2 separate regions of the Homo sapiens genome follow, and region 2 is linked to region 1. The links come from fine-mapping of genetic effects on gene expression. A gene starts in region 1. The other region holds a variant in brackets. All regions are shown on one strand. Distances are between the middles of the regions.

Evidence for each region. PIP is the estimated chance that this variant, and not a neighbour inherited with it, causes the effect.
Region 2: its variant is the best candidate, but not a certain one, in a credible set for the expression of OXCT2 in whole blood (TOPMed, PIP 0.51).

Annotation. Positions count from the first base shown.
Region 1 is chr1:39,769,684-39,772,587 of GRCh38, forward strand. It overlaps OXCT2 (3-oxoacid CoA-transferase 2), which reads right to left and starts at 1,665. Exons shown (of 1, transcript NM_022120.2): 1 at 1-1,665. The coding sequence starts at 1,572. The coding sequence ends at 19. All of the region lies in intron 3 of BMP8B (bone morphogenetic protein 8b), which reads right to left. RefSeq lists enhancers at 1,038-1,711, 1,712-2,384 and a silencer at 1,598-1,697.
Region 2 is chr1:39,807,466-39,810,369 of GRCh38, forward strand. It overlaps LINC02811 (long intergenic non-protein coding RNA 2811), which reads right to left. Exons shown (of 4, transcript NR_186710.1): 3 at 1,589-1,906. LOC130932201 (a long non-coding RNA gene) reads left to right here. Exons shown (of 4, transcript NR_186719.1): 3 at 537-733; 4 at 1,597-1,970. Among named protein-coding and RNA genes, the nearest start is that of LINC02811, 8.5 kb to the right of the region's middle. The variant T/C (reference allele first, on the strand shown) is at 1,357.

The DNA.
Region 1 (2,904 bases):
GCCCAGATCCAGGTCCCGTCAGGGTGCCACCTGCTGCATGGGCCTGAGGTTCGGGGACACAGCAAAGGCACACCCCGTGCTCTTTTTGATGTCGTCCACCGTCAGGCCCTCCCAGAGCTCCCTCAGCGTCAGCTCTTTCTTCCTGTGCACGTCAAACACGGCCTTCTCGGTGATGATGCGGTCCACGCACCGCTTCCCGGTCAGCGGCATGGTGCATTTCTCCATGATCTTGGGGGTGTTGTCCTTTGTGCAGTGCTGCATGGTGACCACCACTCTGGTCTTCTGACTGGACACCAAGTCCATGGCACCGCCCATGCCTTTCACCTTCTTGCCAGGGATCATCCAGTTCGCCAGGTCGCCGTATTTGGAAACCTGCATGGCTCCAAGCATGGTTAGTTGGATGTGTCCCCCTCGGATCATGGCGAAGGAGTCGTCGCTGGCGAAGAAGCAGCCCCCGGGAAGCACCGTGACCGTCTGCTTGCCTGCATTGATGAGGTCGGCATCCACCTCATCTTCCGTGGGAAACGGGCCCAGGCCCAGGATCCCGTTCTCACTGTGAAGATGGACAGTCATGCTGGGACTGATGAAGTTGCTGGCCAGCAGGGGGATGCCTATGCCCAGATTGGCGTACATGCCGTCCTCAAATTCCAGAGCTGCGCGTCTGATGATGCGCGTCCTGGCGTCCTCTTCCTTTCCAGCGTCTCCATCTTCCTCTTTCAGGATCGTTAAGCGCTCAATTCGTTTCTCGTATTTCTGCCCCTTTATCACGCGATCTACATAAATGTTAGGAACGTGGATGTCTTCTGGGGGGAAAGCCCCCACCTCCACGATCTCTTCCACCTCCACCGCCGTGACGTCTGCAGCTTTGCACATGGGCACGTTGAAATTGCGGGCGCTTCTCCTGAAGACCACGTTTCCTGCCCGGTCGGCCTTCCACCCTTTCACCAGGGCGAAGTCTGCCCGGATGGCGCGCTCCAAAAGGAAGTGGTCGCCGTTGAACTCCCTCACCTCTCGGGGCTGGCTCATGAGCGCCAGGTGGCCGTCCGGGGTGTAGCGGATGGGGGCGCCCCCTTCCTGGACCAGGGTCCCGTAGCCCGTGGGGGTGTAGAAGGCGGGCACCCCGGCGCCCCCCGCGCGGATGCGCTCGGCCAGGGTGCCCTGGGGCGTGAGCTCCAGCTCCAGCTCTCCTGCCAGGTACTGGCTCTCGCACAGGGTGTTCTCGCCCACGTAGGAACAGACGATGCGACGGACCTGCCTGGCGGCCAGCAGGAGGCCCAGGCCGAAGTCCTCCACGCCCACGTTGCTGCTGACCACCTGCAGGTCTTTCACGCGGGTCCTGAGCAGCGCGGCGATCAGGTTCTCGGGGATCCCGCAGAGCCCGAAGCCCCCGATCATGACGGTCGCCCCGTCAGAGATGTCCTTCACCATCTCCACCGGGTCCGCGTAGAACTTGGCACGGAGCCGGGGACTGGTGGCAAAGCAGCGGGCGCAGCCCTGGGACAGCGCGAGCCCTGAGCCGCCGGCGGGGACCCCGCGCCCGAGCACTGACGCCAGGAGCCGCAGCGCCGCCATAGTCGGCCCGGGTCGGAGGCCAGGACAGGTGGTGTGAGCCCTGCGTGCGCCTCGGGCCGCGCGTCACAGAGCAGGGCGGGCGCCCGCGCCCTGACGCACTCCCTCCCAGCAGGTCTCCCCGGCCAGGCGCAGGCTCTAGGCTAGGCCCGCGACCCGCAACAGGGAGGGGGCCGGCTCCGCCCTGGGCTGGGGGCCCCCGAGTCAGTCCTCCGTGTCCAGCGCACAGGCCCGGGCGCAGGACAGAGCTGAGGTCAGGCTCCGCGAGAAGGGCACAGGCTAGGTCCCCTCCTGCCCCAGTGGAGCCTCAGACACAAACTCCAACCACCCCGCCCAAGCTTCCCCCCAGCTTCCCCAGCTCATTAAAGACACCAAGTGTCCAATGAGCAGGCGCCGCTGGGTGACACCGACGCTCATGAACACCTTCACTGGGCATCACTCTGTGCCAAGCACCCTCCTTTAATCCTGTGACAACCCGGAGAGTGAGTGCCTGCCCCACTACAGCCTCCCAGAGCTCAGGTTCACCCCTCACTGCGACAGTGGGGACAGTATCCCTCACCTCCATCAGGAAGGGTCCCTGCTCTGAAGAGGCCCCCCGTCTTGTCCTCTGCATCCCCCCGCCCTCTCCACCTCCCCCACTCCAGCTCCCTGCTCCAACTTGTGCGGAATTTTGCAGTTTTCTTCCCTCTGCACAGAATCACTGCATCACCACAGCAGCGTGCAGGCGTCTCCTCACCTGGAAAGGACCTGCCTTGTCCCGGGTTCTCTCCAGCCCCAGCCCATGTCTCTGCTCCCCTTCCCCAGCAAAGGTTCTGGAAAGAGCTGTCTCCTGCCTCCACTGCCTGTCTCCCTCCACCTCCTCAGTCAGACCCACACTCCACGGATATTTAGGTCATCAACAACCTCTGTGATGGCAAAACCCTTGGTCACTTCTCTGTTCTTGCCTTCAGTGCCCACAGCAGGACACAAATGACAAACCCTTGCTTCTGGAAACACTTTACTCTGGCGTCTAGATCACCTCATCCTCCAGGTGTCCTGCTCCCTCCCTGGCTGGTCTCTGTGGGCTCTCTGTGGCCCCTCCTTGTGAGGTCTCTGGATGTTGGAGGTCCCAGGGCTCTGGGCCAGGCCCTCTTTCTTCTCCATCACTACCCTCCTTCCCTAGATGACCTGGTCCCATCCCATGCTTTAAATCCACTTACATGCCAGCACCTCCCTCGCCTGGGTCTTCACACTCACCGGTCCCTGTAATGGCATTTCCATGAGGACCAGTGATCTCAGTAACATCCCAGGGGGGTCAGTAATATTCCAGCCAAAAGAGAACCCTTGGCCACCCAC
Region 2 (2,904 bases), 38 kb after region 1:
TACTTGGGAGGCTGAGATGGGAGGATCGCTTGAGCCCAGGAAGCAGAGGTTGCAGTAAGCCGAGATCACGCCACTGCACTCAAGCCTGGGTGACAGAGTGAGTTCCTGTCTCAAAAAAACCTAAAAAGCCTCTCCCTCTCCCCTCTCCCCTCTGCCCTCTCCCCTCTCCCTCGTCCCTCGTCTCCCTCGTCTCCCTCATCTCCCTCGTCTCCCTCTCCCTCTCCCTCTCCCTCTCCCCGGTCTCCCTCTGATGCCACCAAAGTTGTGAAAGCCGAGGCTGGACTGTACTGCCGCCATCTCGGCTCACTGCAACCTCCCTGCCTGATTCTCCTGCCTCAGCCTGCAGAGTGCCTGGGATTGCAGGCGCGCGCCGCCACACCTGACTGGTTCTTGCATTTTTTGGTGGAGACGGGGTTTCACCGTGTTGGCCGGGCTGGTCTCCAGCTCCTGACCGCGAGTGATCTGCCTGCCTCGGCCTCCCGAGGGGCCGGGATTGCAGACGGAGTCTCGCTCACTCAGTGCTCCATGTTGCCCAGGCTGGAGTGCAGTGGCGTGATCTCGGCTAGCTACAACCTCCACCTCCCAGCCGCCTGCCTTGGCCTCCCAAAGTGCCGAGATTGCAGCCTCTGCCTGGCCGCCACCCCGTCTGGGAAGTGAGGAGCGCCTCTGCCCGGCCGTGACCCCGTCTGGGAACTGAGGAGTGTCTCTGCCCGACCGCCACCCCATCTGGGAGGTGAGGAGCGTCTCTGCCCGGCCGCCCCGTCTGAGAAGTGAGGAGCCCCTCCACCCGGCAGCCGCCCTGTCTGGGAAGTGAGGAGCCCCTCCGCCCGGCAGCCACCCCGTCTGCCAAGTGAGGAGCCCCTCCGCCCGGCAGCTGCCCCGTCCAGGAGGTGGGGGGCACCTACGCCCGGCCACTGCCCCGTCTGGGAGGTGGGGGGCGCCTCTGCCCGGCCGCCACCCCGTCTGGGAGGTGTACCCAACAGCTCATTGAGAACGGGCCATGATGATGATGACGGTTTTGTCGAATAGAAAAGGGGGAAATGTGGGGAAAAGAAAGAGAGATCAGATTGTTACTGTGTCTGTGTAGAAAGAAGTAGATATTGGAGACTCCATTTTGTTCTGTACTAAGAAAAATTCTTCTGCCTTGGGATGCTGTTAATCTATAACCTTACCCCCAACCCCGTGCTCTCTGAAACATGTGCTGTGTCCACTCAGGGTTAAATGGATTAAGGGCGGTGCAAGATGTGCTTTGTTAAACAGATGCTTGAAGGCAGCATGCTCCTTAAGAGTCATCACCACTCCCTAATCTCAAGTACCCAGGGACACAAACACTGCGGAAGGCCGCAGGGTCCTCTG[T/C]CTAGGAAAACCAGAGACCCTTGTTCACATGTTTATCTGCTGACCTTCCCTCCACTATTGTCCTATGACCCTGCCAAATCCCCCTCTGCGAGTAACACCCAAGAATGATCAATAAATACCAAAAAAATAAAAATAAAAATAAAAAATAAAATAAATAAATAAATAAAAATTTAAAAAAACTAAAAAGCAAGCAACAACAACAACAAATTACACTAATTGTCCCCCAAATTACCTTTACAGGCCCAGCATCCAATTCAGTCGCCTTCAAGGAGTCTCTTCAGTCTAATTTATTCTAGAACAATTCTTCAGGCTTCCCTTCTCTGGCCAAGATTTTTGAAAAATACAGGTCAATGACTTTGTAGGTTGTCTTCAGTTTGGATTTGTCTGCTGTGTCCTCATGATTTATGCATCTCTGGCAGGAATACCACAGAAACGATGCGACATTCTTCTCAGTGTACCATATTAGGAGTCACACAATGTCAACTTGTCCCATTACTGCTGATGTTAATGTTTACCACTTGGCTAAGATGATGTCTGCCAGGTTTCTCCACTGGAAAGTTAACAGTATTTAGTACGTGTTAAGTGATGAGTAATGAATAAATATTTCATAGGGAGATGTTCTGAGAGTATAAAAATATCCTGTTCCATATCAAAGTTGCTTCACCCAGTTTCAACCCAAATCAATTACTACTACGATGGTTGCCAAGTGAAGATTTTCCCTTTTTTTATTTTTATTTTTATTTTTTTAAGACAGAGTCTCACTCTGTTGCCCAGGCTGGAGTGCAGTAGCACAATCTCGGCTCACTGCAACCTCTGCCTCCTGGGTTCAAGCAATCTTCCTGCCTCAGCCTCCGCAGTAGCTGGGATTACATACACCCACCACCACAGCCAGCTAATTTTTGTATTTTTACTAGAGATGGGGTTTCACCATATTGGTCAGGCTGGTCTCGAACTCCTGACCTCAGGTGACCCACCCACCTCGGCCTCCAAAAGTGCTGGGATTACAGGTGTGAACCACTGCTCTAGGCCAAGGTTTTTCTAATTTCAACATTTTTTTACATTTATTAGTTAATATTCTTATTCTATGACGAAACAGAGCTTTCCATTCTCCCCAATGTATTTATTCATTTATCTATTTATATCATATAAACACGTGGATTCCTATTTTTCTCAATGAACTACAATCCATTACTTGATACCTATTTTGAAAGTCATACTATCTTAGATTTGGCCAGTGGAAGATGCTTCAAGTTGGCAGCTGCGCCCTTTAGTGTGTCTTCATAATTCTTTGAGCATTTATTTATTTCCTGGCACAGCAAGGTATTCTAGGTTCATCTTGTACATTTCTTGCTCCAGCCCACAAGGAGCCCTAGTCCAGCACTGAGAATGCCATCTATAATGGGCGCCAAAGATGTTCAGTGCTGCCAGAGTGCCACTGATTTCAGGCAGTCTCAGCAGACAGAACAAGGAACTACGTCAATGTGTGTGTTCAGACACATACACATCTAGATCTATTTTTTGTTGTTGTTGAGATGGAGTCTTGCTGTG